6 separate regions of the Homo sapiens genome follow, and regions 2, 3, 4, 5 and 6 are each reported to be linked to region 1. Evidence: microRNA targets listed by miRTarBase, many of them from high-throughput screens and not tested one by one. Region 1 holds a microRNA gene; each other region holds the end of a gene's coding sequence. Distances are from middle to middle.

Region 1 (5,656 bases):
GGAATAGAATAATATAAAAGTAGAGGAGGGAAGATGAAGGGAATTCTGATACAAGTTGGGAATGTTACAAGAGTGAAAATACCATCCCAACACAATTGGAAAACTCTACCTAGGGGAGGAGGCACCACTAACTAATGACTGAGACAAACCATTAGGTTCAACCATATGAAATTGCCATTATTGTAGGTCAGAAACAACTGAATTTCAGCAAGTTTACATGGTCTAACCTTACATGTTATACCTGTATTGTGCTTACATTTTGCTATGTATATATGTGTATACATTTATAAATACCCAACACAAAGTTCATGCATATCTTCTTCCAAGATTCAAAAAATCTTAAGATGAAGGAAAGCTGACAATAATATTTATTATAACACATCTCCTTTGTCTAAAGGGTTATCAGTTCAATTACTTTCAAATTTGGTTGTAAACATATATTGTGTTTGGGCATAAATGCTTCTTAATTATTAAGTAATACCTGAATTTGCCACTTTTAAAATAAATATACTTTAAAAAATGAATACACTGAAATTGAGGAGCAACCAAACAGTTCTTACAGAAGCCAAACTGTACTTAGGAAACCCAAGTTGGCTATTTTCAGCTTATTCCTCAACTCCTTAGTTTCAGGTATAAAGTCATCACATACCAATTGGATGACTAGTCCAAAGGGAAGCTTAGTAAGAGATCACATTGTTTATTCTCATCCCTGAAGTCAGCCACACTTGAGAGATGAATAAACAACAGGTGCTGCCCAAGATTACAATGTAGGTTGACTTTGATGCTTCAATTATTTTTGGCCGAGATATTATATTTGTACATCTCTATGTTTGTAAATATTGCATATATGTATATATGGATAATTGTGGAAGTAAGAGCTATACACATCATTAGTTAATCTGATAAATAAACTTTAGTTAGTTTTAGGAGAATATCTCTGGATTATAAGAATAAGCCACTTCATAAAACATTTGTAAAACTTTGTAAAAACAAGTACATAAACAATATAGAAATGTATAACTTAGAAAGTCAAAGTCCCTAATAATCATTGTCTACACCTTTGCCTTCCTCTTTCAAATAATCAATATCATCAATTTGGGAGATATAATCTGAATTTCCCCCTCCTCATCACATGTTCTGTTTTTTTTTTCACTTATTTCTTTAAAAGTCTATCCTCCTTTGAGATTCTTTTCTTCACCCGTCTAGATCATAATGATATTTCTCTTCTCTACACTTTCAGTACTTTGAGTTTGCATGTTAATAATAAAATGTCTCACACGGTTCTCTAATTCAGTATTCCCCAGACTGTTTTCCATAGAACACCACTATCCCAAGAGATTTTTATAGATCTGTCTCAAGAAAAAGTTGCTCTGTCAAAAACACTTAGGGAGTTCTGGGTTCAATGACAATAACTGTATTTCTTTGTTGCAGAACTTCTGAGACACTGTGAGTGTGTGTGTGTTTGTATGTTTGTGTGTGTGTATGTAAGTTTCTATTCACATTTTATATAAATGAAAACATATCTTTGTCACATATATCAGATGTCCAATTTTGAGACTTGGTTGTGTTGGGGTCGCTAAGGAGAAGTGGCCCTGCGAATGAGGAAGAGACAGTGAGGGTCAAGAAGGAAGGTCAGAGTAAGCAGGGAAGAATCCAAAGAACATGGTATCCTAAAATCCAAAAGAGTTTTCAGAAGGAGAAAATGGGTCAGGTGCAGTGGCTTATGCCTGTAACCTCCACACGTTGGGAGGCCAAGGTATAGGGATCTCTTGAGGCCAGAAGTTTGAGACCTGCCTAGACAACATAGTGAGAACCTACTGAGACATCTTTAACTTCTTAGGTGTGAATGGTGAAGTTCCAGGGGAAGATTTTAGTATGCCACATTTCTAAAATTTGCATCCAGGAACATCATCCTATTCACCTTCTGACTGATATCTTAAGTGACCTTAATGGTTTTTAGAACCTTGTATGGAAAACTCTACATTCTTGAGAGCAGGGACTTTGTTCTTCATTCCTTTTTGAGACCCTTGTAGTGCATAGCATAGATCTGAAAACATCAAAGCACCCAACAAATATCCGTTGATTGCATCATATGGTTGAAGGAAATAAAAAGAAAAAAATGAAAAATATATTGAAAGATAACTAATATATGCCCAAACTTTTCACCATACATTTTCCTCACTGATTTATTTATCTTGAATTAAATAAAGGGATATTTTTTTGTCTTTAAGATGTACATCTTAAAATTACATAATACCATTATATTTCACTATACTGATCAAAAGTTATTGCATAGGAAGGGTGTACAGACTGATTATGAAATCCCAGTGAGAATATGAAAAATTTGCTGACTAAAATTTTTATAGTGCAAGAAATGTGTTTCTATCCTAAAGAGGGTTATAAAATGGGAGAAATAAAACCCTAAGAGTCATATCATTAAATTTATGGAAGTTCATTTCCTGTGTGTGAGGAGAGTCTAATGGAAAACTTTATAACCATGGACCTTCTCCTTTGTCACAGCTGAAGGGATCCAATGCTAAAATTCTGTTCCATGTAACAAAAAGTACAGTAGAAGAAAATATTGTATCTTGAGTATATTCCTGTCCTTCTATATCTTCCTCTGACTTCTGTAAGATATATTTTAAAAACTCAGTCCACATTCCTTAATTCCTCCAACTCCCTCCAGAAACAACAGGTCTTCAAGGTGTAATTGGGTAACTTTTATTGAAATCAGCTGTTGGTAGTCCCTGGCAACCATATGTGCCAGTTATTGAGTCACAGAGGAAGTGCTGGGTTCCTGAACACAGTCTGTATGGAGTAAATTCTCGAAGCATTTGGCCCTATCTCACAATGCCTCTCACTTTGCCCTGCTCATGATCCAGTCATGGATTTTAAATTGAACCCATGTTTCTGTTTCCATACTGAAAGTTAAGTTTTAGCATAAATATTTGAGGGTCACCACAAATTTAAGAGGATACCTTTCAAAATATGCTTTTCTTTTTTTTCTCTCTCTCTTTTTCTTTCTTTCTTTCTTTGATGGAGTTTCACTCTTGTCACCGAGGCTGAAGTGCAGTGTGGTGATCTTGCCTCACTGCAACCTCTGCCTCCCGGGTTCAAGAGATTCTCCTTCCTCAGCCTCCTGAGTAGCTGGGATTACAGGCGCCTGCCACCATGCCCAACTATTTTTTTTTTTTTTGTTATTTTTAATAGAGACAGGGTTTCACCATGTTGGCCAGGCTAGTTTCGAACTCCTAACTTCAGGTGATCCGCCCGCCTTGGCCTCCCAAAGTTCTGGGATTACAGGCATGAGCCACCACACCTAGCCTGCTTTTCTTTTTATAATACAAAAACAAAATAACATTTTTGATTCGAACCTTATTGGGAATATTTGACTGCTAGTCATAAACTGCCTAAACTAATAAATAACAAAGTAATATATTTATGAGACAGCAACAAGAAATTCTTCTTGGGCTCAGGATGATATCTCAAAGTAATAAAAATATATGCTATCTTCTGTATTTGGCTTCAGGACCTGATGGTGGTGGATGGTGGGAAGTGCTCTAACTCGACTGGAGGCAGCACCTCCCCTTCTGCTCCAGCACACGGCCTTGGGCAGGCACTTTAACCTCCCTGGGACTGGCATCTCTCTTCTGTAAAACCAAGAGGTTGATCTGCATAAACACAAATAGCACTTCCACATATGTCCAAATCCATGACAATATTATTCCAGGTAAAAATGTGCAGCAGATCCTCTTACACATAGACAAAGTGGGCCATTCTGTTTTACAAATAGCACTTTTCAAGCAATGTGACTTTTTTGTGCTTAACCCAGTAATGAGCATTTCCTAAAAATTTAAATGCTAATAAGATAAACCTTAATAGCAACTTGATTGTGGAAGTTTGGATTTAAAAATAAAATAGATAATAACTCTGGAGATGACAGGACCACTTTTCTCCTCTAAATTGTTTGATGCTGTGGGTCAGTGGATAGGAAAACAATAAGAACATCTGCTCAGATGACACACTTCACATTCCCGATGAGGCCATAATAGTTCACGATGAAATGTTGAGAAAATGGCTTCTAGGAAAGAAAAAAACAGAAGGAGATACAGCCATTTCTCATTATTTGCAGTGGCAGTTATGTTCTGTAAAGTCACTACAAACACTGAATTAGTAAATACCAAGCCATTGCTCGTAGGGATATACAGGACTAAGTCCCCAGGAGCCTCTGGTCTCATCAGTTTTATCAACTTATCAATACATATTATTGTTTTACCTGTGCTTCCATTTAATGATACGTTATTTAATATTGTTGATTCACTAATGTTGAACTCACAGCCAAGAGCACTGTAACTCATGCCTGAAAGAAGCTTATCTAACCAACTGTGTTTTCTCCAAGAGGCTCATCACAGCCTTCTTGTGCTTTGGAACAGTAGACAGCACTTCAGCACTACTCTTGGGGCCAATTTTAAGTGGTGAAATTATCAACAAAAAGCACAAAAGGCTGAGCATGCCTGTAACCCCAGCACTCGAGGCCGAGGTGGGAGGATCACTTGAGACCAGGAGTTTGAGACCAGCCTAGGAAACGTAGTGAGACCCAATTTCTACAAAATAAACAAATAGATAAATAAAACGTAAACCAAAAAAGAATTTTTTTTTAAAAAAAGCACGAAAATGTGAAAAACAGCAGAAAATAGGTCTTGCAAGGGACACATGTTTACAGTGTGAGTGCTGAAACAAGAAGACAAGAGTGTCAGTTTGTTCAAACTCAGTTGAGAACCCGAATGTTGGGAGACTAAAATTTTTTTGTTGCTCTGTAAAGGGCCACAAAGGTGCCATAGGTGTTATTTCACCTCATAAATACATTTTTAGTGGGTTAGCAAATTTGCAAACATGGAATACACTAATAATATTGAGGATCAACTCTGTATAAATTACATATAAATTTCAAAATATGTAAAATTCTAAGTATCATAACTTTTTTATTTAAAAAGCAAAGAATGGTATTGCTGTTATTAAATTATATAAGAGATGATCTTAAATGAATATTTTCTTGTAATCACCAAGGATAGGAAATCAATAAGGTATTTATAGTTCATATACAAATAATGTCTTTCTGTACCCTAAGGCATATTTTCACTATGAATAAAGGTGGTTTGTTTTAGAATCAACAAATAAACAGAATTACAACATGAAAACCTATGAAGGCTGCAAATATTCTTAGAAACTTGAGAGTAATGAGGCTTGTTCCTACTATTGATTAATACAAAACATTTGACCAGATCTCTATAATAATCCACATGAAATTGCAAGGGTCATCCAGAGGAGTAAAGTGAGCAGCTTAAATGATGCCATCATTTTTAATGTTTGATAACTTACATTTAAAAGTCTATCAGGGCACAATTACGTTTACTGAGTACACTGATTGAATAAATACAAAGCTGCCAAGAAACTCACTGGCTTGAGAACTAATGTTGTAAAAGTGGTCAAGACAGCATTGCTATGATTCATTTAAGTAAATATTCATTTTTAAAAAATTTTCTCAAGCAAAAGAAAATTGTGAGACCTCAAACAAGGCACTGAAACTCATCATGACTGACTTCACAAAAAAATATACGAAGCTCACCATCTTAAAAATAAAATCTGTGGACTGAGT
Region 2 (5,656 bases), not on the chromosome of region 1:
ACTAAATGCATACATGATTTTGGTTACTCTTCTACAAAAGGTTTTGTTGCTACAATTCCATGACCAAAAATCTCTGAAAAGTTAAAGATTTTCCTAGCATTTTGGCAACAAAACTCACCTGGTAGCTGAGCCTGACTTCCCCGGCAAGGTTTTATGTACATATGTAGTCTTTCTTTATCCTACTTTAATACTCATTTTGCTACAGAAATGTTAATATACTTGATTATAGGTGTTGCCCCAAACCATATTGGTGTCTGAGTCATAATATTTTATAAAATCTGGAAAACTCCAAATTCTAAGACATCTGGCCCTACAAGTTTCAGACGAGGATCTGTGATGTGTAGTAACCTGCTGTGAGTCCAAAGGGACTATAAAGAGGACACATTTTGCATAGAATGGCAGTGTCAATACTGGGGAAATTTGTATTGGGAAACAGTGGGGAAAATGGGTGCCTTAAACTATTTGGGATGCTATAACAAAATATAGACTGGGTGGCTTATAAACAAATTTATTTCTCAGTTTTGGAAGCTGGAAGTCTGAGAGATCAGTGTTGAGGGCCCTCTTCCAAGATGCAGACTGCTGTCTTCTATGTGGCAGAAAGAGAGCTCTCTGGGGTTTCTTTTAATGACACAATCCCATTCATGAGGGTTTCACCCTCATTACCTAATTATCTCCCAAAAGCCCCACCTCCTAAAAGCATCACATTGGGGTTAGGATTTCAACCTAAGAATTTTGGGAGGACACATTCAGTCCATAACAAGGAGTATGCTGATTTTTCCCTACCAAACATTATTCTACCAGCATGTAAACTAGGAAGTATTAAAGGAAAAACCATTCTGACACTTGTTAAAGCAGTAAAGAAGACTTTACTCAGGACTGTATATGTTAAGACCATCACCCAATAAGGGAAAGAAACTGGGCTCAACTAACACAGCAAATACAACTGAGGATTTATAGTCAATGAGCAGTGATGAGGTCAGTGGATGGAAAACTACTAACTGGAGACATCAAGAGTAGGGTGATTCTTGCCAAAGACAGGCCAGGTTGACGATCATCAGTTATTGAGGATGGGATTATCTCTAAACTCATTTAGCAGGATTTTTGCTAAAACTGGACTAGTCAAAAACAGGGCTCAGAGGTGCCTGTCTAAAATTTGGTCGAGTCTTTTCCAGAAGCTGGACACAGTCCCTGTGCACACTGTGTACCACCTATATTTCTAATGAAGAAATTATCCTGAAGTATTGCATAGCAAAAACTAAGTATATAGCATTAGCTTACCATTAACATGACAAGCAGTGGGGATATATTTTGACACCTACTAATCTGATAGCTCTAGCTGGAAAAAGCCAGAATGTTAAGTGAATTGGCTATTCCTTGCTTTCAGCAAGGTATCAAAAAAATTGACATTTTCAAGCAAAGATAGAAGGGAATAGACAAAGTTTTGATACAAGGAACCTCATGAAATTAAGCCAATTGTTTCTGAAGTCTGAATAGCAGCAAAGGTTCAAAATTATTTTTGAGGTGGGGGAGATTGGGGGGAAGCCCATGAAGACTTCTCTACCAATCGTTAAGCCAAAGGAACCCAGCTTTGCAGTGATGATCTGCATGTAACATTCCCAGTGTAATCTTATTTTTAGTTGATCTCAAGATAGCCTCCATTAAAGAAAGGCAAAAATAATACATACTTTGAGAATTTGGTCAAAAGCTTGGTTGTGGTTCCTCGGCATATGCAATCAGAAGCACACTGATAAAAAGGCTTGAGTTTTTGAGAGAATCGTATTCCACAGAAACATGAGCTTGGCCTTAAAATGATGGGCACCAAATTCACACCAGCAGGAAGTGGACTGTCTTCACAATTCCCATGGAGTGAACACCCAATCTCTACTTCTGAGGTAGCCATGGAAGAAAATGGATAAGGAGTAACTTTCCAGAGGGGAAACCATGGAGTTCAATGAACAAGGGAGTCCCCTGCCAGAGATCAGAATCATAGTTGAATCAAGGAACTTCTCCACTGCTAGGGACAAAATCTTCATACATCTCCCAGGAGCATTCCACAATTTTTACGTTTCCCTTTATTCCATTTTCCAAATTGAGACTTTTTATTTGGCCATCCTGTCCCAACTACATTATAAATGGGCAGCAGCAAGGGTGAGAGCAAATAATTTGCCTATCAGTTTAGAGATTGTCAGACTATTAGAAGCCACATGTAAAGGGATGGACCTTTAATAGAGATCCTAGATTGTGAGCTGAATCACTAGCTGGATGAAGAGGGATTACTTTCTGTGTAAGGGAAGATACTTGGTAGCACAAGAAGAGCTGTGGCTGAGGCTGCTAGCAGCCACCAAAATCTTGTATTTATAGCTGGAAGATGGCTTCCCAGCCAGGGACTACATTTCTCAGCTCCTCTTGTATCTAGATGTAACTAAGTCTCCACACCACTGGAATATGAGAAGATATATGAGCCATTTCCAGGCACAGCCCATAACACCTTGCATATGTACACTTCCATGTTCTTTTTCTGCAAATTAGAAGAATAACTAGAGTGACTTGAAAGCCATGATTTAAAATGGCAGCACCATCCTCAGCCAAAGTCCCTGAATAACTGTTTGAACAAGGGCTGCTAGCCTGCAATGCTGACCTTGGAACCACTGGTTGGGAGAGAAACTTCTATATTTATATTCTTTATCACTGGGTCTCTTGCTAAAGTAGCTTAGCCTACCCTAAAAAATACAACTTCCTTTTTCCCTGGAGATACTGGATCCTTTGAGTGCTTTGCTTTTGTTTTCCAAATTAATGTATAATAGCCTATGATATTTATATTGATAACCAGTTATAGTTGTATTAATAAAAATATTATTCCCCTAAATAATCAGTAACTGGGTACTTAAATAAGATACACTATTCTGTGGCATTGAATAACCCTGGATACACCACTATACCTAAATACCCCATTTACTTAGGCAACTATATCAAAACACACACAACCTCTGAAATAGCTTTTTATTAAACGGCAAAGCAGAACTGCAACACAATTTAAATGTCTGTAAATTAGGTCACAAAAGGGATGCAAAATGTTTGCAGTTTGACTATTATATATTCACACAGCTAAAGTCATTCATCAACTCTTACACCAATACATAAGATTATTCCATGATTAAAAGCCCAAATCTAATAACCTTAAGCTACATTAGTGGATCTCTTTTCATATTATAAGATTTTAGCAATACTTCCAATATTGATTTCCTTACCAAATGGAATCTAGAAGCTAAATTTTTAAAAATTGTTAAAGGATGACTAAAACTCTTCAAACCCAGTAGCAGGGTTTACAGAAAATTCTAGAACAAGTGAGATAAAATACTGAGCAAGATAATAAGTATACATGTATAACTTTCCCATTTTATTCACTATTCTAATACTAATACACCATTACGGAATTTTGCAGAAGTTGACCCACTGGGTACAAATCAACTTAGAGACCAAACTCTTTGTAACTGTTCTCATCCAGATGTGGCTAACATAAGGGTAGTCAAACTTAATCCACTTTCATATATATTTCCCAAAAGATCTACTCTGTGCCAGAGAAAACACAAATCTGGAGTGAAAATATTTGGTTACTACTGTTTACCGAGTACTTTTCCACCCTATTTCCATTTTTCCTCAAAATTTTCTATTTTAACATACACATGACCAGAAATTATATATTTTCAGATAATACAAAATGAGTTATTTTGGGCAAAAAGAAGTTTTTAACAACAAATATTCCCAAGTTAATTCAGTTTCAAAGAAAAACCTTCATTTTTAGCCTCCATCTATTTCCAATTAATTAAAGAGACACTAGCATTCCTATCTTAACACTAAATACACAAATGACAAGCCCTAGCTGAGACAGTATCTTATTTTGGTTAAGTTTCAACAATTAAAATACAGGTTACTCTCAGAGATGATTAACTATTAAAATTACTTTTACAAATGTGACACCAATTTTTTTCCTTAGCGGAAGGGAAATAGGAAGGAAGAGGCAAATGGAGAAGAGGCACAAGATGGTGGACAGGGTACATAAAGCTGTGCATTTAGTACATGATTTTGGTCACTTTTTCACAACACGGTGGTTATTTTCTTGTATATCTTACTAATCCTATAATAAAAGACAGTGCTAAACCTACAAATTCAATAAAACATTCATCTTTAAGTTTCATAAATATATGCAATTCTAATCATAAAGTCTCTACAATACATTTGCACGTTTTCATAGACTAACATAATACACAAACTTATGGAAGTCTCCTGTTATTGTGTTATTTTTGTCTACATCTGACATTATCTTCATAAATATTCAATGAAGCCACAAAGGTACTGTAACTTTTGGAATCTATCCAAGTTTTAAAGAAAAAATGATCAGCAGCAATTCCATAAAACAGAAGGGTGTCAATCCCTTACTTTCTTTTGCTTTTTGTGTCAGTTGTTTGAAAAACACTAGAAGCTGACATGAGATTTTCTATATATTGTCCAAGAACTTGGTTTTCTGATTTTAGCTTCAGATTTTCTTCCTTAACTGCATCTACTCTTGCAGAGAGATCTATATAAAAAATAAAAATGCCCATTATCAATAAAACAATGACAATGATTCCATATTACAAAATTCTTAGGATTCATTCTTAAAAGAAATAATACAATCCTTAAATTTTAAGAATTCGGATTTTAGAGACAGCAAGGTAAACAAACTGAGTACAAATTAGTAGACAAATTCCTAAAAAGATATTTCACATTAGACTAAATGCTATTCTTCATAAATAGCATTAATGTTGAGTAATTTTTTAAAAAGACTTTGTTTTTAAAATGTGAATTTTGGTTCATGTCTTATCAACATAAAACTATAACATCTTTACTAGAAATGTTTAAGATATATATCAGGTTAACACAACTGAATTCATATACTGAATACAGGCAGTCAGTTTCCAAGCAACTTATCATCTTGTATTGTAACATTATCAAGACATTGAACACATGCAGTTCCTGATGATCACATAAGAGGTTAATTCCGGCTGGGCACGGTGGCTCGCACCTGTAATCCCAGCACTTTGGGAGGCCGAGGCGGGTGGATCATGAGGTCAGGAGTTTGAGACCAGCCTGGCCAACATAGTGAAACCCTATCTCTACTAAAAATACAAAAAAATTAGCTAGGCATGGTAGCAGGTGCCTGTAATCCCAGCTACTCGGGAGGCTGAGACAGGAGAATCGCTTGAACCTGGGAGGCAGAGGTTGCAGGGAGCCGAGGTTGCGCCATTGCACTCCAACCTGGGCAACAAGAGTGAACTCCATCTCAAAAAAAAAAAAAAAAAAAAAGAAAAAGAAAAAGAAAGCTAATAGGGAAGTCACAGATGACTTTTATTAACTCTGTAAAATGTAAATCAGTGGGAGGTTCTGAGTGACATGATCTGCTCACTGTGGCACCAAAAACACAACCTCTTAATTTCATTAAAACTCAAAAGATGTTTCAGTGTATTAATTTTATGCAAGATTTAGAAAATGAAAAAATTCAGATGAATTCCTTTTTAATCTCCAAGGCTAATACATTGTTTTTACTTTAAAATAAGCTTTATTAAAGCGGACTTAGTAACACATTATGGGGACTTAAAAGGGGGTCTCATACTAGCCA
Region 3 (5,656 bases), not on the chromosome of region 1:
GTTCTCACCTTTGGCCCATATCTGCTCTTTGCGGGGCAGCACTGGAATTCCCCCAGCATTTTGCATGTTCTATGCACCGCAGCCACTCTGCTCACACTGTGGCCTTGTCTTTTCAGGGAAACTCATGGAAACCTATTGTTCGCAGAAACACACAAGGTAATCTATCTTGCATGAATGGGTGTTGTAATGATTGTACAAGCTGTTACAAATGATTAGCTACTACTCAGTGGTTTAATGACTTGAGCTTGTGTTACGATTACACATAGAGTTGGAAAGATGTGACATTAGAAGTGAAAAAGTTGTGCAGATTTAGCTCACATTAACCTGTGTCTTGGTTAACACTCTGAGCAAAATGCCAGTACCAAGGCAGGTGGGATTAATAGAAGTATAGCACGCAAAAGAAAGAAGGTGATATGGCACTTTACTCTGAAATTTTTTGTTCACCTATGGGTAAGTTAGTTTAAGAGGCCATTGTTAAACTGGAGTTTATTGAGGAGCGTTGGCAATATGGAAAATGAAAAAAGCATGTAGAATATTATTCCTGGGAGTTGGTTCCTCTGCCCAGTTAGACCATGGAAGCAGCTTGTTTTGGGGCCTTTTTAAAAATAGTATTTGAAGATTCTCTAGTAAGGGATTTTAGCTATTTGCCCTATTCTATAGCTTTTGGAAAAGAAATTTTTAAAAAAGGCATAAATTATTAATGAAGTCCTTGCCTAATTAATTGCATTCACTAATTAGTTGCATTAATACCACAATATGTATTAGCAAGAAGGAAAATTGACACCCAGCGAGGTGACCTTTCAAGGTCACACTTAGAGACCTTTTGGTAAATAAACGTATTGAAATCATGATTTTATATTTTGCTAAGAATCTTTTTTATCTCATTATAATGGATTGGCAGAAACTCTTTTTCCCCTGCAGCCTCAGTTTTCCCATCTGTAAAATGTGGAGCTTAGACTAAATGAACTGTGAGCCCTTTGAACTTTAAGGGTAATTGCACTGTAACTTAGCAGCATCTGTTTTGTTTTGTTTTCTAGTCTTGTGTTTCCCATTATGAGCCCCTCTTTTCTGTTTACAGGCTAGACTACATTGGAGATAGTAAAAATGTCCTCAATGACGTGCAGCATGGAAGGGAAGACGAAGACGGCCTTTTTACCCTCTAACAACGCAGTAGCATGTTAGATTGAGGATGGGGGCATGACACTCCAGTGTCAAAATAAGTCTTAGTAGATTTCCTTGTTTCATAAAAAAGACTCACTTATTCCATGGATGTCATTGATCCAGGCTTGCTTTAGTTTCATGAATGAAGGGTACTTTAGAGACCACAACTTCTCTGTCCATGCTCTAATCATCTCTGTAGAATCACCGCTAAGTGATCTTTCACAGTACACTTGAACACTTTCAGTGACAGTGAACTCCTTACCACACGCAAGGGAGTCCATTCAATCTCAGAGCAGTTCTGAGATTAAGAAATATTTATAGCAAAATCTGTCTCCGGATGACATCTGCCCATAGGTCATAGTTGAGCTCCTTATGCCTATCAGAACATCTCCTTTATTAACTGCCGGATCAGTGTTGTGTGAACTAACAGGACAAAAAATCTATAGGCTCCATCAGTCAATAAGACTGATTTTTTTTTTTCTCTCTTAAAGGTAATGTCAAGAGAGTAGAAATCCAAAAGATGGTTACCTTTGGAGAAACATGTGCTTATTCCATTAATGTTGCTATTGCTCTAAGCATGCTGGGAAGTACTGGAGAGCTGTTAACTCTTCAGGTATTAGAAGGAGAATCTCATGTTTCTCCAAATTTCCTTGCTTCTGGGATACAATTTCTGGTTCTTTTGTTACCCTAATTGCCTTCATCTCGTATGGATTCGTATCTCTCCTTTTATGCCCAGCTTTCAGAGTTCATTGTCTCACTGCAGGTATGATATGAGCAGCACAGAGCCTATGGTTCATTAACAATGCAGGAAATGACATGGAATCACACCGTAACTGTGACTCACTTCTTTATTTTCTTTCTTGAGACGGAGTCTTGCTCTGTTGCCCAGGCTGGAGTGCAATGGACAATCTCTGCTCACTGCAACCTCCGCCTCCCGGGTTCAAGCGATTCTCCTGCCTAAGCCTCCTGATTGAGCAGCTGGGCTTACAGGTGCATGCCACCATGACCACCAATTTTTGTATTTTTAGTAGAGATGGGGTTTCACTGTATTGGCCAGGTGGGTCTCTAGCTCCTGACCTCAGGTAATCTGCCTGCCTCAGCCTCCCCGAGTGCTGGGATTACAGGCTTGGGCCACTGCACTTGGCCAACATTGACTCACTTCTAAAACTCCTAAATTTTCTATTATTTTCTTTTCACATTTGAGTGTCTTTAGAGGTGACCATAGTGTCACATCCTAGTTCTTGCTTGGGGAATTTAATTTTGGAAACAGGGAAGAGTCCGTGGGAGTAAAATGTGGTGAATGACAGGAATATTCAACCAGGGGCAGTGCGTGGATGTGAAAGCAAGGCAATCCAAATAAGTTTCTCTAAATATAATCTTGGAAATGTGCTCCTCAGCAACAACAGGTTTATTTTAAAACTTTAATAACTGCTAACACGAGGAGCCATGGGAGAGAGATTAAAGCAAACAGTTGTTGAATGAATGTATAAAAAACATGTGTGCCTGAGTGAGAGGGGCTTCTGGCTGGGTAGAAATGTGGAAAGTAAACCAGATCTGAAAGACATTTCTGTGAAGGACTTCCCAGCATGTTTACAGCAATAGCAACATTAATGGAATAAGTACGTGGTTCTCTAAATGTAGCCATCTTTGGATTTCAACTCTCTTGACATTACATTTAAGAGAGAAAAAAGTCAGTCTAATTACTTGACTGGTGAAGCCTATAGATTTTTTTGTCCTATTAGTTCACACAACACTGATCCAACAGTTAGTAAAAATCCCCCTCACCTGGGTACTTGGAAAAACTGGCCCAAGGCAGCCTGACTTCTGACTTGTTCAGTTGCAGTTGGGCAGAATGATTGGCACCAATGATGAAAACAATTAGCAGCAGATTGGCAGCTGTTTCTTTTCTTTTTCTCTTCTCTTTTCTTTTCTCGTCTTTTCGAGACGGAGTTTTGCTGTTGTTGCCCAGGCTGGAGTGCAATTGCATGATCTTGGCTAACTGCAACCTCTGCCTGGTGGGTTCAAACGATTCTCCTGCCTCAGCCTCCCAAGCAGCTGGGATTACAGGCGCCCGCCACCACACCTGGCTAATTTTTTATATTTTTAGTAGAGATGGGTTTTGCCATGTTGGCCAGACTGGTCTCGAGCTCCTGACCTTAGGTGATCTGCCTGCCTTGGCCTCCCAAAGTTCTGGGATTACAGGCGTGAGCCACTGTGCCTGGCCCTTTTTTTAAAAAAAAAATTTTTTTTTTTTTTTGGTCAACTTGGCTTTGATGTCAGCTTAAGATACTTAAAGTGACTTTGTCTAGTGTGCTAAACTCAAACATTTATTTAGAAACGTTGGGGAAGTGGGTCTAGAGCCAGGTTCAGGGCCTGAATTTCCCCATCTAGAAAATGGAGTGGGGCCAGATGGCTTTGTGTATGTAGTCAGGTTATAGTATCTTGTGAGGTAATGATACACCCAACCCTAACTTAGCTCATGCTCCCTATCCACCTTCCAAAACCACCGCCATTATCAATGTCACTACCAGCTTGGGTCTGACTAGAAAAAGAAGACGACAGACACTTCCTAAACAGAACATTTAAACTCAATGAATATTACTTTTCTGTTTTGCAAAGGGGTATTTTCAATCGATTCCCAAATGTATTTCTGAAACTCCTTGTACCGACTAAGAAACACTAACATGAGCAATCATAGTATTTTAGAGCTCGTAATGGCCTCCAGGAGCCTCTGTCCTAGTAGTTCTCAATGTTAGCTGAATAATCAACTGGGGAGCTTTTTAAATGCCAATTCCTGAGTCCTACCCTTTAAGAGATTCTTTCTGTAATTGGTCCAGGGTATGACTTGGGCATCTGAATTTTTGAAAAATGTCCCAAAGTGGTTCTAATATGGAACCAAGTTCTGAAAAATGCTGGTCTAGCCCGGTGGCTCTCAAACTATGCACTTCAGACCAGCAGCCTCCGTGTCACTGGTACTTGATAGAAATGCAGATTCATGTCCTTCACCCCATACCTCCAGAATCAGAAACTCTGGGGGTAGAGTCTAGCAAACTGTGTTTTAACAGACCCTCCAGATGATTCTGATGTGCGTTAGAGTTTGAGAAATGTTGCACTGTAGTAATTCCTAACAGATAAAGTGTTCAAGAAAACAATCTCCCTTTACCAGGGCTGTGTGGTGGTGGGCTTGGCCAGACAGAGGGTCAGGAGCTTCCAGTACCAGGGGCAAAGGTCCTGCTGCTTCATCTCCTTTAAGCTGATAGCACTTTCTGGCTGGATTCCTGCAGTATCTTCCTAATTATAATCTCTGACTTTACTCCTTTTCCTGTCTGTTCTCCATGCTGTGGCAGAGATACCCTCTTTCAATACAGGTATGGGTCTCCTGTCTCCTGTCTTCCAGCCCTTTTCATCCTTGGCCCCTAGACCTACCTAGAAGCAGCACACTTAGCTCTGCCTGGGGCAGAGGTGGCAAACTCTGATGAATTTAGAGGCCAGGCAGCTGATACAGTTGAGGGAGTCAAAGGGAGATGACATGGCCCATGATAAATCGGAGTGTATGTCCACTTAAGGGCATTAAAATTTAAAATTAGTTAAAATGATTTCCTGGGCAAGCAAAACATGGCTGTGGGCTAAAACAAGGTAGCCAGTTTGAGACTGGGGATAAAGGGTGGATTTTAGTAAAAGATGAATTAAAATAAATATATAATTCTTATACTGAGACTCCTTGATCAGAGGAGGCTGTGGATGTAGTTGCTCCTCTCATTCCCTCTTTGTGTAATCAGGATGAATTGTTAGCATCTATAAATAACTTTTTGGTATCTATTGTATGTGGGGCCCAGGAGAGAGAATTGCTTCTTTTAAGGAGCTTCACTTCTGAATGAGACAAAACACACATGGGAAATGCAATAGAATAGGCCGGGTGCAGTGGCTCACACCTGTAATCCCAGCACTTTGGGAGGCCGAGGTGGCACATCACTTGAGGCCAGGAGTTTGAGACCAGCCTGGCCAACATGGCGAAACCCTGTCTCTACCCAAAATACAAAAATTAGCTAAGCTTGGTGGCAGGTGCCTGTAATTCCAGCTACTCGGGAGGCTGAGGCAGGAAAATCGGTTGAACCTGGGAGGAGGAGGTTGCAGTGAGCCGAGATCGCACCATTGCACTCCAGCCTGGGAAACGGATTAAGACTGTGTCTGTCTCAAAAAACAAACAAACAAACAAAAAGGTAATGCAATCGAATGGAATCAATGTTGTTTTTCCATTTCCATAAGGAAGGAATGTGATGCAGTATGTGCTTCTTACAGCTAATGATTATATGGTGGATCCACAATCAAACCTCACAATTTAAAGCAGGAGTTTCCAATCTTTTGGCTTCCCTGGGCCACACTGGAAGTAAAGGAATTATCTTGGGCCACACATAAAATACGCGAACACTAATTATAACTAATAAGCTAAAAAAATCGCAAAAAAAATCTCATAATGTTTAAGAAAGTTTACCAA
Region 4 (5,656 bases), 23 Mb from region 1:
AATTTTCCTATTGGCTGGGCACAGTGGCTCACACCTGTAATCCCAGCACTTTGGGAGGCCAAGGCAGGCGGATTGCCTGAGGTCAGGAGTTCGAGAACAGCCTGACCAACATGGAGAAACCCCATCTCTACTAAAAATACAAAATTAGCCAGGTGTGGTGGCACATGCCTGTAATCCCAGCTATTCGGGAGGCTGAGGCAGGAGAATTGCTTGAACCTGGGAGCTGGAGGTTGCAGTGAGCCAGGACTGCGCCATTGTACTCCAGCCTGGGCAAGAAGAGCAAAACTCCACCTCAAAAAAACAAAAACAAACAAACAAACAAATCCTATCATTTACCAGTGGTGAAAGGAGCAGGATGGGGAGAGGGAGAGATAGATTTGAAAGAAGAATGGCGATTCGTTGACAATTATTGAAGTTGGATGATAGATACTTAAGGTTTATTTTACTGTTCTCTCTAACATACATTTGAGATTTCTCATAATAAAATGTTAACAACTACATTTAATACTATCTTTCCCACAGAAAGAAATTTTGGCGCTAATTCCAAACCAGAATGCTCTTCTAAAGGACTTGGATATTCTTCATAATTCATCACAGATGAAGAGCATGTCAACCTTCATTGAAGAAGCCTATAAGAAACTGGATGCATCTTAAAGAGTGTTTTTTTTTTAGATTGTTCCATATTAATTTAATGTTCGTGAATTTGTAAAACTGTTAACCTATGATTATATGTACAGAGGCTAAGGCTTCTGCAGGATTTATTATCTCCTGATATGCACTTTAAAATTAGTCTTTGTAGTTCTATCATTAGCATCTAATGTAGTTCTGAAGACTGTTTTTAGCAGTTGCCAAATCTAGGAAACTAACATTTATATTGCTGTATCTATAAGTATTTGCCTAAAACCATAAAATAGGAATTGCCTTAAGGATCTAGTAGTTTATAATGCCTGAATGGAACTCATTTATTGGTTAACAGCTCATATCAGGAGCTGTGATAAGTAAGTGTTTACATACACTGTCTAGTGCATAAAAACCTTAGTGTTTGCTATCATTCATTCTGTAGCCAATGGCTTACAGTTTCTGTCTGGTCATCTGGAACTTGAAAAATCCTCAAATGCCTTCACTCTTTTACCTAACTCCCTAGTCTTTTTGGGAAGTAGTTAAGATATGCCTGCTATCTTTAACTTTGGAGGTAGTATCAAAATTTTACTTCTTTGGTTGTTTAGTGAATTAATGTTGAATATTTTCTACTGTCATCAAAACATATTCCCAAAAAGTATTAAAAAGGAACCTTAGCACATTTATTTTATTAAAACAAGAAAACCCAAAATATATAAACCTTTTCTTATTATGATAATAAGCTTATATATGTGAATAAGTTATAACCTAGTGTATAAAAAATTATTTCTAACAAACTACAGTATACTGTCTTGGGTTTTTTTTTTTTTTTTTAGTCTGTAAAATAAAATGACTGCAATTACTTTTTTATGTGACCTATAATATCAGTTAATTTGGGAGATGCCATAATTCTGTTAACACCCTTCAGGCAGAGACCACTGGCAACAAACCTGTAGTTAAACAAGTTGGGTTTTCAGTGTAGTGAGGAGATCACACATGAGGACCCTGGGGCAGCTCAAGAAAAGGGTCACAAGCAATATCCTCATAGGAATAATGGTAAAGAAGGCCTATTAATAGATTTTGGAGGAAAATAAAATCTCAAAGAAAAACCTGGCAAAGTGACTAAAAGTAAAGATTATTACAAAATGTCTTAAAAACCCTTCACTTGGAAACTTAAAGCTTCATGTTTTTAGAATGAGTAGTAGAGCCCTAACTCAGTGATTTTTAACACTAATGTTATAGTAGCTTTTGGTGGTGGGGGAGGAATTATGTATGCCATTTCTCTCAGGGCATCTGTTTAACAGATAACTGATAGTTAACTGGGATTTTAACTTACCATTGTTGCTGAGTGATACAGTTCTTCACCCTGTGTGAACTGGCCATACTACTCTTGTAGCTTTGAAGAGTTTATAATCTAACTTTAAGAGATCTACAATATCTTCTGGTAGGTAGCATCCAATCCAAAACATACACAGTATTTTCTTTAAATAAGACTGCATTTTGGTGTACTCTTTGGAAAGAATTTAAGAATTAATTACAGATCTGTTATGGTTTGCCTAGGGTTTATTTGGCCCCACCAACCTCATGTTGAAATTTGATCCCCAATATTGGAAGCGGGGCCTGGTGGGAGTTGTTTAGATCATGGCGTGGATCGCTCATGAATGGCGTGGTGCCATAGATGCTGGTGCCATGCTTCTTGTACAGCCTGCAGAAACATGAGCCAAATCTCTTCATTAATAAATTACCCAGCCTTAAATATTCCTTTATAGCAACACTAAACATACTAAGAAAATTGGTATTCAGGAGTGAGGCATTGCTCTAAAGATGCCTGAAAATGTGGGAGTAGCTTTTGAACTGGGTAATAGGCAGAGGTTGGAAGAGTTTGGAGGGTTCAGGAGAAAACAGGGAAGACAAGGGAAAGTGTAGAACTTCTTAGAGATTGGTTAAGTAGTTGTGTACCAAAATGCTTATAGAAAAAGAGACAGCAAAGGTCATACTGAGGAAGCCTTAGATGGAAATGATGAACTTATAAGTTACTGAAGCAAAAGTCACACTTGTTACACCGTAGCAAAGAACTTGTCTGCATTGTGTCCATGCTCTAGGGCTTTATGGAAGGCTTCATTTAAGAGATGGCCTAGGGTATCTGGGAAAAGAAATTTCTAACCAGCAAAGTGCTCAGGCTGCTGCATGGTTACTTCTAACTGCTTACAGTAGAGACCAGAGGAAAATTGGAAAATGTGCAGCCTTGCCTTGTGTTAGAGAAGGAAAGAAGAGTGTTTTTAGGAGAGGAATCTAAGAGTATGACCAAGCAGCAGCAATAGTTTGCTAAAGAGATGAGCATGACTAAAAAGGGCCAGGTGCTAATAAGACTATGGAAAAAATGTCTCAAAGCTATTTCAGAAATCTTTGCCACCCCTCCCATCACAGATTAAGAAGTTTAGAATGAAAGAATGGCTTTTTGATGGGGCAGGTGATACTGCTCCCCACACCCCAGCGGCACCAGCTCAAAGGGCCTCAGGCTGCTGCTCTGGAAGGTGTACCCAGTAAGCCTTGGAGACTTCCATGTGGTGTTAAGTCTGCAAGCATGCAGAATGCAAGAGTAGTGGAGACTTGGCAGCTTCCACTTACATTTGAGAGGATGTATTAGAAAGCCTGGGTGCCCAGAAAGAAGGCTGCCACAGGGTCTGAGAGCCTCTACTAGAGAAGTGCCTAGTGGAGCAGATGGAGCAGGGGCACCACTCTCCAACCTCAGAATGGTAGAGCCACCAACAGCTTACAATCTCAGCCTGGAAGAGCTGCAGGTATTGGATTCCAACCCACGAGAGCAGCTACGTGGGCTGCACCCAGCAAAGCCATGGGGATGGGGATGCCTGAGGCTCTGGAACCCACCCCTTGAACCAGTGTTCTTAGGATGCGGGACATGGAGTCAAAGCAGATTATTTTGGAGCTTTAATATTTAATATCTGTCCTGATAGGTTTGGGACTCACATGAGGCCTATTACCCCTTTCTTCTGGCCTATTCCTCCCTTTTGGAATGGGAATGTCTGCACCACCACTGTATCTTGGAAGTAAATAACTTCTTTTTTTATTTTACAGGTTCACAGTTGTAAGGAACTTGCCTTGAGTCTCAAATGAGACTTTAGACTTTTGAGTTGATGCTGGAACAAGTTAAGACTTTGGGGGATGGAATAATTGTATTTTGCAATGCAAGAAAGACATGAGATTTGTTTTTCATGCCACCAAATCTTATGTTGAAATTTGATGCCCAATATTGGAGGTGGGGCCAGATGGGAGAAATTTGGGAACAGATCCCCCATGAATGGCTTGGTGACATTCTCCCAGGAGTAAATAAGTTCTCTTGGTTCCCATGAGAACTGCTTGTTAAAAAGCCTAGCATCTCCCCATCTCTTTCTTGTTTTCTCTCTCACCACATGATCTGCAAATGCCAGCTCCCCTTCACATTCCACCATGAGTAGAAGCAGCCTGAGTCCCTGGCCAGAAGCAGATGCTGGCACCGTGCTTTTTGTGCAGCCTACAGAACGATGAGCCAAATAAATCTCTTTTGTTTATAAAATACCCAGCCTCAGGTATTCCTTTATGGCAACACTAAAGAGACCCAAGACAAGATCCAAATAAAATTAAACTGCCGGGCGCAGTGGCTCACACCTGTAATCTCAGCACTTTGGGAGGCTGAGGCGGGCAGATCACCTGAGGTCAGGAGTTCGAGACCAGCCTGGCCAACATGGTGAAACCCCGTCTCTACTAAAAATACCAAAATTAGCCGGGCGCAGTGGCGGGCTCCTCTAATCAGGAGGCTGAGGCAGGAGACTCGCGTGAACCCGGGAGGCAGAGATTGCAGTTAGCCCAGATAGTGACACTACACTCCAGCCTAGGTGACAGAGTGAGACTCCATCTCAAAAAAATAAAAATAAAGAAATAAATAAACTTTGACTATACATGGTCCCAATAATTCAAATAACAGTCCTCCTCTGTAGTGACCTCAGCCATCTAAGTTCTCCCATGCACAGCCCATGCCAACTATGATACATCTCTTCTCTAGTGACTGATAAATGCCAATGTCAGAAACTTAAACAATAACAAAAAAAATACACTTTTGAGATAGAGGATATATTGTATTAAAATGTAGCATATGATAAAGATGGCATTTCAAATGAAATACAGAAAAATATTTATTAATAAATGGTCTTCATAAAACTGGCTAACTACATAATGGAGGGTGAGAGGATGTTTAATATTCCTACTTTATGCCTAAGTACATTCCCACTAAATAAAGTTAAATATAAAAATAGAAGCTAAAAAGAAAGAAATGAACAGTGGATGTCAGGGTAGCAAATGCCCTATTATGCATATAAGCAAAAGTAAAATCATGAAAGATTATTACATAATATTTTGAACTTTTTGAAATAAGATTTTTAAAAATACAAAACCGGCCGGGCATGGCAGTTCATGCCTGTAATCCCAGCACTTTGGGAGGCCGAGGTGGGTGGATCACCTGAGGTCAGGAGTTCGAGACCAGCCTGGCCAACATGGTGAAACCCTGTCTCTACTAAAAATACAAAAATTAGCCGGGCATGATGGTGCATGCCTGTAATCCCAGCTACTCAGGAGGCTGGGGCAGGAGAATCGCTTGACCCTGGGAGGCAGAGGTTGTAGTGAGATGAGATCGTGCCACTGCACTCCAGCTTGGGCAACAGAGTGAGACTGTCTCAAAAAATAAAAAATAAAAATAAAACAAAATCAAGCCAAAGACACATCACAAATAGGAAAATATCTACAATATAAATAAAACAAAGAAATAAAACTTTTTTAAATAAAGAGCTCTGAAATATCATTAACAAATAGGTTAAATACAAATAGGAAAATGGGCAATTCTCAAAGGAAAACATCCATAAGTATTTGAAAGATGATCAACCTTAACTTCACCATTTAAATGCAAATTAAAACATATTTTCACCTATCAAATTGACGAAGACGGGAAAAAGCTGAAAGAAAATTGCTGAACATACTGAAAAATGGG
Region 5 (5,656 bases), not on the chromosome of region 1:
CCTTCAGCTAGCAGACACCCCAAATACACCATCACCACTATTGTCGTCTCCTAGGTACTCACATGACCTGCTTCTCTTGCAGGTTAATGGGTGGCATGGTCCGAAGACCAGTCTTGTTTGCTGAGGTACTATCACCTGAGCAGAGCGGGTCTGGGACCAGAAGTCCATTGAGGTCCCCATTGTAGGCACTGGATGGCCGTGGGCTCTCTGCACTGGGGCCTGGGGACAAAGAGGGTCATTCTGATAAGGTTGCTCGACCTGCCCACAAGCCTCTCCCCTTTCAGAGTTTCCTTCAAGAACTATGAGGTGCTCTAGGAACACTCAACTGAGCAAAGCATGTCCATGAGGAGGAGGGCCCTGTGTTCATCTCTCGTTCCATAAACACTGATGTAGGCAGGACCAAGGATGAGCATGAGGCTCTTCTACCTGGGGGAGGGGTACAAGCCATCAAGGACCCTTTGAGGGCAGTGAATACTCAGGTCTGGGTCACTACAGAAGAACTCTGTGGACTGAGTGAGGGCATAGGAGGGGTCAGGAAAGACTTTATACAGCAGTTAGTGTGACCAGAACACACAAACACAGGAAGGATGGAGTGAAAACAAAGCTACAGAGGCATCAGGTATGATGCCGTGGCACTTAGACTCTCCCTGTGGGCCATGAGAACCATAAAGAGTTTCAAAAGGGAAGGTGATGTGGTCAGTTCTGGCCAGTGGGAAGATTACTCTAAGATAGCATGCAGAATGGTTGAGAATCTGGGTGAGAGAGATCAAGGCCTAGACCAATGTAGTGTCAGAGTTTGGAGAGAAGATGGGCTCCTAAGGCATGGAAGGGCACTGGTAAGATGTGGAAGGGGCTGCCCCACACAGAAATGGCTCAGAAGAAGCTATCTTGGGCAAGTAAACACAGAAGGCAGGGACATAAAGGAGCTGGACCAAAAGGAGAGAAACTATGGGGCAGCGTGTGGAGTAAGGAAAGACAGCATTTCAGTTCTTTGCAACTGGCTGGGTTTCAAACACTCTCATAGGCTCAGACACCATTTCCAAAATCCCCAGGTGGCAAGGAGCCTAGGGCTCCACATTCAGAACATAGCAAGTTTCCAGTCACAACAGTCTTTGAATTATTTTGGCGCGATCTCGGCTCATGGCAACCTCTACCCCCTGGGTTCAAGGGATTCTCCTGCATCAGCCTCCCAAGTAGCTGGGATTACAGCTCACCTAATTTTTATATTTTTAGTAGAGATAAGGTTTCACCATGTTAAGAAACCATGTTGGCCAGGCTGGTCTCGAACTCCTGGCCTCAAGCAATCCACCCACCTCGGCCTCCCAAAGTGCTGGGATTACAGGTGTGAGCCACCGCGCCCAGTCCTCAATAGTCTGAGTTCTGACCTGGTCGTCCAGTGAGAGGAGACAAGAAAGAGCTGCTTGGCAAACAAGGGAATCAAGTGCCAATCAATAAACAAAGTAGTTATAAGGAAAGCCTCCAGGCCACTTCATTCAGATCAGAGCCACTTTAGCTGCTCAGGGACAAGCTGACAACTCTCCCTTCCATGAAGGGTACCATGAGGACAACCAAAAAGCAGGCTCAGGCTGTACATGGTTGGCCATGCCAGGCTCTACCAAATCTCTGCGGAGTCTAGTCTACAAAGCAGCTGAGCAGCAGGAGAGGTCCACGCCCAACTCATGAGTAAAGAGGGCACACACTCCAGGCCTGGGACAAAGGGCCGAGTGGTCTCAGGCAGCAGATGGATTTTCTGAAAGTAGGGGTTAGTTGAATCCACCCCTAGTGAGCACCAGTGCCTGCTTCCAGAAGCAGCCAGTCTGGGCCTCCCAGCAGGTGTAAGAACAAGATCTGAGGAAACACAATTCTCCACTGTACGCCCACACCATCATCACCGGCCACTTCAGAGATCCCTAAACCTGTCAGTAAACTAGTGCCTGCACACGTGCTATTTCCTCTTCCTAATAGGTGGCTTCTCCATAGGTGCCTTGGGTGCCTTTCCTGACACCCAAGCCCCTGTTCACATTACAAGACCTAGCCCAGTCTCCCCTCTCAGACCTGCACTCTGCACTCACCAGCCTCCACCCTTCCCACGCCCATCACAGTATCGAGACACTCCTTTCTTTCAATGACAACAGTATATTACAACCCTGTTAGCTGTGTCTTGGGGAATCTTTGGGGGCAAGACTAGTTCTGAGGTATCATTAAGAGCCAAAGCGAAATATGAATGAATGGGAACCAATTAGGGCTTGCAGATATTTGTAGCATAATTCAGTCAGGGTGGTGCGGTCTGTGATTTGCCTTCATCCCAGAAAGAACACGGAATTGAGACTGGACACCTTCCTCCTGGAAATCAGTTTCAGAACGGGAGGCCTGGAGTCTTTATTCCAGAGAGAAGGGCAAGTTATGGAGGGGGACCGGCAGCTCTTCAGCATCGCGCTTAAGCCTGGGCCCAGAATTCCATATACGGAGCCCAGACCAGGCCTCTGAACCATGGAGAAAGGGAAGAGGAGCTAGGCCAGTCCCAGGAACACTAGAGACCTCGGGGCCAGGAAACCAGAGGGCCCCAGCGGATTCAGAGAAGGCGCCTCACCTTCAACCGAGACGCTGAAGGACAAGGCAGAACAGCCTGAGGACAAGATAGGGAGGGGTCACACCCAGGGGTCTGCGCCCTTCGAGGGGCACAGTCAATCCCCGTCCACCCTTACCCGCCGGGAGGATCCAGAGCTAGTCCTAAGGGAGCTGTGGGCCCCAATGGCGGTTCAGACGCGCGCCGCCCTTTTGTCAGCTCGCCTGGGGCCCACCCCCGCAACCCCCGCTCACCGCCCGCGGGCCGGTCCAGCTTGAGGATGTCCCGCAGGTGCTGCGTGGCGTCCTCGATGTCGATGCTCGCGCAGGAGGCCATGGGCCCTGCGGCGGGCGCCCCGCCCGCACCGCGTTCGTTCCGCCGCCGCCGCGCACCACGCACCCTCGCTCACCCGCCACGGGGCGAGACAGCGGGACGCCGGTCACTACACAGTCCACCCGCAGTTCGCAAACCGCCACCCGCGCAGCGTCGCTGAGCCCCGCCAACCCCACCAACCGCCTCCACTTCCGGCACCCACGAGCCGAGGCTCCCGGAACCTGCCAGGGCCGGAGAAGAAAGGTTCCGGGCTGGGGGCGGAAGCCTAAACCCCTCCCGCAGCCAGTCCCCCTCGGCGGCCCCGCCCCTGTGTCCGCGAGGTCAGGAAAGTCCCACGGGGCTGAAGTAAGCGTCCACGCACTGGGCCACCTAAAGCCCTACTCGACTCAGAAGGCGCCAGGTCCCTGCCCACTCCCAGAGCATGGACTCCGATGGTCCTGGGACGGGGTCAACTTAGCCGCCCATGCTAAGGTCCCTCAGACCCCCAGAATATGCTGAATTGGCAGGTGCCTCAGGTTCCCTTTGGGAATGGGTCGGAATAACTCAAGGCCTGAGGCTACCCTCGAGGTCATAAAACTCAGGAATTGCAAGAGCAGGGGAGATGATCCCACTACAATGACCAGTCATTGTTCCCTACTGTCCCCCAGCATCCCCTTGTCCCACCTGGCACCCTCAGGTTGGAAGAAAGAAACCACAGTTTACAAATTCTTCTTTATTGCAGACAGTTCAGGCACAGGTACATGGAAGAAGCCGTATTGCAGATTTTACACAAGGTGGTTTGAGGCAGCAGGCACCTACCTCTTCCCCACCCCCACTTCCCCAAATACACATCAGCCTAGAGATCATTCCCACTGAAATCTCCTGAGCATGCTGTCCTCTCAAACAGCACACCATCCAGCCCTGTGCCCAATGTCACCAGGCAATCTGTGGGATCTGAGGAGGTCCTTAGCCTCCACCCGTAGTGGGACAGGGGAAGGGTATCCTTTTACATGTCAGATTTAGCTGTGGTGTCCTTACCAATCCTAAAACCCTTAACAGGGCACTGACCCAAATCTTGGGTTTGGTTCTAGCCTATGGTTGCTACATTGCCACTAGGTTTATACCATCCAGAAGTCTGTGGGACAAGGGGCTAGATTTGTACTGGGCAAGGCCTTTGTCCCCAAAATGGAGAAGCAGAAACTGCCCTAATAGCTAAGACTCCCCGGAATTGGAAGATAGCATGAAGTCTGTATGCTGAGGAAGGAAGTGGAGAGAGGCCTGGCAATGTCCTGCAGCAGTCTGAGGGGTGAGGACTCCTAAAGCATGAGTCCCTCACAGACTGCCTCCTTCCACAGCTCCTGACCTATACTCCAACACAACTGGGCCTGGCTCTGTGGGCAGTGGAGGCTGGCTCTTCGGGTTACCTGCCTTTGGGTAAAGATATCCAAAGCAGATGGGACAGGAGCTGAGCTGCCCTCTGCCTGGCTTGGTGTATGTGGGGCATCCTGGATATGATCCTGATCCTTCTGGGGATAGAGCAGGCCCCTCCCTTGATACTGCTGACAACTCAGCCCGGAGGGCCTGAACGTGATGAGCCATTTTGCCAAGGCCTCTCCAGCTTCAACAGGATTCAGGATCATCTCTCCTGCTACTAGGGCCCTGAACCTACCCAGAGCAGAAGTCACAGGAGGTATCAGAACTGACTGCACAGGCTTCAGTGAGAGAAGCTTCAGGCCAGACCTGAGCTCTTCCTGCCTGCTTTCCAAAGACCAGTCGCCCTGTGGAGTGGGAGAGAACTGCCCTACACGGCTTCTGAGAGGCTAGCTGGGAGTGCTGCTTCAGCAGTTTCTCCCTGCAACAGGTATTCAGAGTTGGGGCAGAAGTGGGAGGGTGAAACATGAGAGAGACAACGGGTCTGGGTAGCTTCTGATGCCCAGCCAACTAGTAAACTAATTAAAACAATTTAAACTGTTAAGAAAATTTTTGTGGTTTTATTGTATCATGAGGCATTGAAACATCTGAACAAATCAATGTCTGGGCGGTGAGGCAGCTGCTTTCTCCTTCACTTCTTTGGGTTACTAGAGCAACTTGTCAGTAGATTAAAAAAAAAAAAAAAAAAAAAAGGACAACCTTTTGCATTACTTAAGTCTTTCCAAGGCATGCGCTGGTACAACACAAACTTCTCCCGTCAGATGCAACTAGTCTAGCATCCAAACATCATGCACAACACCTCAGTGGCAGCAGCGCACTGCGCCCACTCCCACCGCGGCCCTGCTCATTTGTGCATGATATTTGGAGCATCTGGAGGAGTGGGAATAGTATTGGGAAGAGGAGGGAGGAGGAAACAGCGTGAGTGCCTAGCTGAGAGGAGGTCAGCCAAAGTTGTGCAGGGCGAGCCTGAACATGTCATTGGTGCAAACCCAAGCATCGTTGATGTTCTTTAATAGGAACATCTGGTGGAACCCCATGATGGGGTCTTCATCCGCCTATGAGGAGAGAAAAGAGGATTCAGTAAGGGGATCAAGAAACAGGAAGGGAATTCAGTGGTAGGAGAAGAGGGCAAAAAAATGTTGACTTTAGGATCAGGCCCTACTGTCCTGAACTCAAATCCCAGTGTAGCCAAGGGGTACTTGTGAATGTGAATTGATGTAATGTATGAAACAATGCCCTGGGCACATGTAGGCCAACAATCAGCCACGCCTATGTGTGCTATGTGTGCTTAAACTGCACAATAATTCACCCTTAGCTACAGCAAAAGAGCAGAGGATGTACCTGCCT
Region 6 (4,000 bases), not on the chromosome of region 1:
CATTTTTATATTATAATGATTATTAGTCTACTTGCCTGTTTATGGTTTTAGGCTCTATTTGAGAGTTTTCAACTCTATGTTTATTATTTTTTTCTTTTGTATGTCACAGATAGGATCACGAGACCATTCAAATCTCTCCATTCCTTCAAGAGCTCCTCTTCCTGCTGACACAACTGGTATTGGGGATTTCTTACCATTGAAAGCTGAACTTGATACTACTTACACTTTCTTAAAGGAGACATTTATAAATACTGTGCCCCATGCTCTGACATCATCTCACTCCTCTCCAGTGACTATGTCTGCTAATGCCAACAGACCAACTCAGATTGGATTATGACTTCATGAAATTAAAAAATGGAGGAAGAGTTAACAGTACAATTAAAATTGTTTTGAATGGGAATTTTCTTATCAGTTGACTTTTGTTTCAGCAGAAGTGGCAGTGGATTTAAAAAATTTGTGCGCTATCTTGATGTATTCTGGTAGCTCTGTCTCCTTGAATAAGGAAATAGCCAACTTTTTTCTCTCCAAGTTTTATTTGTTATCACAGTTGCTCATTTTTATGTAACATATTTTTAAATGTTAAGGAATGACACATTTTGGGTAATTTCCCTCAGACTTAAAAAAATCAATAAGCCATTTTAGTCTCTATCTATCAAAGTTGTTTCATACTTGTCTATTTTAAAGCAGGACTGCAATGCTTTAATAGGATTGAGAGAGCTATTTGAAATGTATGCCAATGATTCCTGTCATTTCATGGCAGCCCGGCCATGGTTCACTGAGCCCCCTCTTCTCTCTTGTCAGCTCAACTGAAGACAAGCATTTAGTTGCAAACTTTAAGCAGGTTGTGCAAAACAGAAATGATGTGACTGCTTCTCCTCCTGCACAATAATGTCACTCCTGGTCAATGTGAGAAGGTCAGGTTGCTCCTTGTAAAGCTACATGATACCACTTGCCCATTTGAACAAGTTAAGTTAACTGCTGAATCTGGTCCCTGAAGGCACTGAAAACTCATTCTTTTAGCAAGTCTGCATTTGATAAGAAAGTAGAGCAATTGTGCTGGAGGATTTCTGTGGTATGTTTAGGCACTTCATAAGGACAGTTCCCACACTAGGATAGCAGGTAATATATTTAGTATAAGCTGAAAAACTTCAAGGTAATGGCTGTTTTGACCTTCAAAATAGACTCCTTTTTTGTTTTTGTTGTTGGTAGGACCCAAGAGTGACACCCATCTTTGATGCTGACAGAATTTAAAACAAGGCCATTGCCCTGCATTTTCTGCCTTGTAGCACACAAAAGTAAAATTGTATGTCAGGCCGAGATGTCGGGGAGCTGACAAGATGCCCCAGTGACATTTCAGCTAGAAAGAGCAAGTGTCTTGCAACCAAGTGGTCAAATATCAAATAATAGGTCAAGCAGGAAGGAGCTGAGTTCTAACCACAAAGAGGTTTCTGGTAACTTACTTGACAAGCTTTTGGGTGCTTTGTGGCTTGACAAAGTGATGTTCTGTTGGGTATCGCTAGACAGACTGTTCTTTATCGCCTTCAGAAGATCAGACATTGACATTGATTAAACTCTTTAACCCTTAAAGGTTAAATCCTTGCAGTTTGCATCATGGTAAGTGAAGAACAAAAGAATATTTGTAGTAAGAATTTGTTTTTGTATTAATCATTTAACTCCCTAGTGCTATTAACTTCTGATGTGAACTATAGCTTTTGACAAAGAGTCTTGATACATAATCTATTTTTTATATTATTTTTCATTATGGAATCTTTCATTATGGATACATTAGAGTATAACAGTATGTATTACAGAAGTTTTTTTGTCTTATCTTTACAGTGACATTTGATTCAAATTACCCAACTGCTGAGAATTTTTTTATTGGCCTTGGTAAATAAGATTTTATACTAACTATTTATTAGTAGCCAAATTAGCCAAGTGATTTATGCCATCTGAGGGAACACAGCAGTATTACTGTCGTACTGTGTAACACATCCTATTCTTGTAATACTGAACCACTATAATTAGCTTTATATAAAACTTTAGAAAGCTTATATGGAGTAAAATTATATCTTTAACCAAATTTCTCTTAATTCTTTCCTTGGAATTATTTTTAATATGACCTGTGTAACATGACCTGTATGAAATTCAACTTGCAAATTTATTATAACATGGAAGTGCTATTTATTGTTTTTATACAGATCATATAATTTCTGCACATTTCAGAACACCTTTCTCTGCTGTTCCAAACAATGATTAGGATATTGTTCATACAGAAATTGATAGACAATTTTTTAGTTCATGTGATATCACTGAGCTTACAATTCTCACTAGAGAAGAACAAGGTTACTATATGTAACCTCTATGTCTAAGTGTTTGTGTGTGTGTATGCTTGTGTTGAATCTGTTTTCAGATCCTACTGATTTTAGAGGAACAAGCAGCTTTGTAAAATGTGCCTTGGAAAGGCCTTGGTCTTCTTGCCTTGATTTTATAATCTGTTAATGGGATAACTCCAAAAATAAATGTGTATGTGTCTCCATATATATGGGTATCTAACTTTACAGGTACATTTTGTACAGTGAATTCTGAACCACAAATTCAAAATTCGTAAATTATGATTAAATCAAATCAAAGCATGTCACATTTATAAGCAACTAGATGCTAAAGGCCATAGAAACTGAAGGATGAACCTCCTGAGCGATCATTAGTATTCACTACCAAATATAGTAATATTTATACCATATGCTTTTTTCCCAGAAGTCAGACCCAGCAGGAGGAGAAGATTTAATGACATATCCTATGGAGATCTGAGAAACTCTAGACTGCTTCTAAGCACCTTAGTGACCAATTGCTGCATATTTGAGATCTCTGTTGTGTCGGCAAGGACAGTTGCTGTATCAGCTTCTTTATCTTTTTAAGAATGATGTATAGAGTAGACATATCTCAGGATAATGACTTCAAATATTTTTGTAGAGGAAAGGAAGTTTTACTTTACACTTCCGAATGTGGATTTTCCTGCTAACTTTCTGTGATCTAGAAACACACCTATATCACCTATCACTATTAATTCTTAAAGTTATTGTTCTGATACCTGAGTCACACTTACATATTGTGGAGTTGCTGACATTTTTAATACATGTATTTTGGAATGACATAATATAAAAACAAAGAGGTTTAGGATTGCAAAAATTGCCAGTTCAGTGATAACTTAATGACATAAATAAATAACCTTTTAAATAGAATGATCACTTTAATTTACCAAATATCTGACTCTTATTAAACTTAGCAACTCTATTTCCTATTTCATATTTATGACATATGCTATTATTGAATGTTTAATGAGATTATTAGTATTTTCATATTACTTCATTTACCAGTTGTCTGAATTCATTCTGTAGACCATACTGAACAATAGGAAGTTGATCCTATTTCACTGTGCACTTATTCTTTTTTTAAGAGATGGGCTCTCACAACGTTGCCCAGGCCGGTCTTGAACTCCTGGGCTCAAGTGATCCTCCCACCTCAGCCTCCTGAGTACCAGGGACTACAGATGCGTACCACTGTGCCCTCACTGTGCACTTTTTATAGACAAGTTTTCTAATATAAAAGGTGGAAGATAATTAATATTTATCAAGCAACTGTTTTATGCCAGTTATTATAGCAAAACTAATGATCTCACAACAAACCTCTAGCATAGGAGTTTCCATCACCATTTTAGACATGAATAACTGAGGATCAAAAATGTTAAGCTTTTGGCTACCAAAGATCATACATAACCTAGGAATTAGTAAGCCTAGAGCTGCAATTCCAAAGTCCACATTATTTTGAAACACTGCTAGTCCTGCCTTCCAGAAATAATTAACACTTTTTAAAGAGAAAAAAAAATTTTTTTTAATTGTCCTGACCAGCTAGGAATAATTTTGATAAGTATGTTTTGGTTTGAAATCTAGATTTCTTATGAATTGATTAGACAAAACAAAATACATACATACTAGCACTATTT

What was found. Region 1 holds the annotated microRNA hsa-miR-4282 (UAAAAUUUGCAUCCAGGA, at 1,888-1,905, shown strand). A microRNA usually pairs through its seed, bases 2 to 8, with sites in the 3' UTR of a target mRNA and lowers its output. Matches are read on the target gene's strand: a 7mer-m8 pairs with bases 2 to 8, a 7mer-A1 pairs with bases 2 to 7 and ends in A, and an 8mer does both.
Region 2: miRTarBase lists SCOC as a target of hsa-miR-4282. Seed matches in the 3' UTR shown: 7mer-A1 at 3,953-3,959, 7mer-m8 at 3,660-3,666 and 8mer at 1,148-1,155.
Region 3: miRTarBase lists TIMD4 as a target of hsa-miR-4282. The part of its 3' UTR that is shown has no 7-base or 8-base seed match.
Region 4: the mRNA of CENPQ is a reported target of hsa-miR-4282. Seed matches in the 3' UTR shown: 8mer at 1,202-1,209.
Region 5: miRTarBase lists NUTF2 as a target of hsa-miR-4282. Seed matches in the 3' UTR shown: 7mer-m8 at 4,855-4,861.
Region 6: miRTarBase lists CCDC171 as a target of hsa-miR-4282. The part of its 3' UTR that is shown has no 7-base or 8-base seed match.

The regions. Positions count from the first base shown.
Region 1 is chr6:72,963,946-72,969,601 of GRCh38, reverse strand. MIR4282 (microRNA 4282) reads left to right here and starts at 1,849; the gene lies at 1,849-1,915. All of the region lies in intron 1 of KCNQ5 (potassium voltage-gated channel subfamily Q member 5), which reads right to left. The region is part of intron 3 of LOC105377855 (a long non-coding RNA gene); the gene reads left to right.
Region 2 is chr4:140,379,882-140,385,537 of GRCh38, reverse strand. SCOC (short coiled-coil protein) reads right to left here. Exons shown (of 4, transcript NM_001153484.2): 4 at 1-4,576. The coding sequence ends at 4,434. Among named protein-coding and RNA genes, the nearest start is that of SCOC, 9.1 kb to the right of the region's middle.
Region 3 is chr5:156,914,964-156,920,619 of GRCh38, reverse strand. It overlaps TIMD4 (T cell immunoglobulin and mucin domain containing 4), which reads left to right. Exons shown (of 9, transcript NM_138379.3): 8 at 117-156; 9 at 1,079-1,328. The coding sequence ends at 1,163. Among named protein-coding and RNA genes, the nearest start is that of TIMD4, 45 kb to the left of the region's middle.
Region 4 is chr6:49,491,622-49,497,277 of GRCh38, forward strand. CENPQ (centromere protein Q) reads left to right here. Exons shown (of 9, transcript NM_018132.4): 9 at 523-1,486. The coding sequence ends at 654. Among named protein-coding and RNA genes, the nearest start is that of GLYATL3, 5.5 kb to the right of the region's middle.
Region 5 is chr16:67,870,508-67,876,163 of GRCh38, reverse strand. NUTF2 (nuclear transport factor 2) reads right to left here. Exons shown (of 5, transcript NM_005796.3): 5 at 3,597-5,364. The coding sequence ends at 5,251. EDC4 (enhancer of mRNA decapping 4) reads right to left here and starts at 3,112. Exons shown (of 29, transcript NM_014329.5): 1 at 2,821-3,112; 2 at 63-219. The coding sequence starts at 2,902. RefSeq lists an enhancer at 2,396-2,896 and a silencer at 2,790-2,999.
Region 6 is chr9:15,971,500-15,975,499 of GRCh38, forward strand. It overlaps CCDC171 (coiled-coil domain containing 171), which reads left to right. Exons shown (of 26, transcript NM_173550.4): 26 at 110-2,538. The coding sequence ends at 337. Among named protein-coding and RNA genes, the nearest start is that of LINC03041, 300 kb to the right of the region's middle.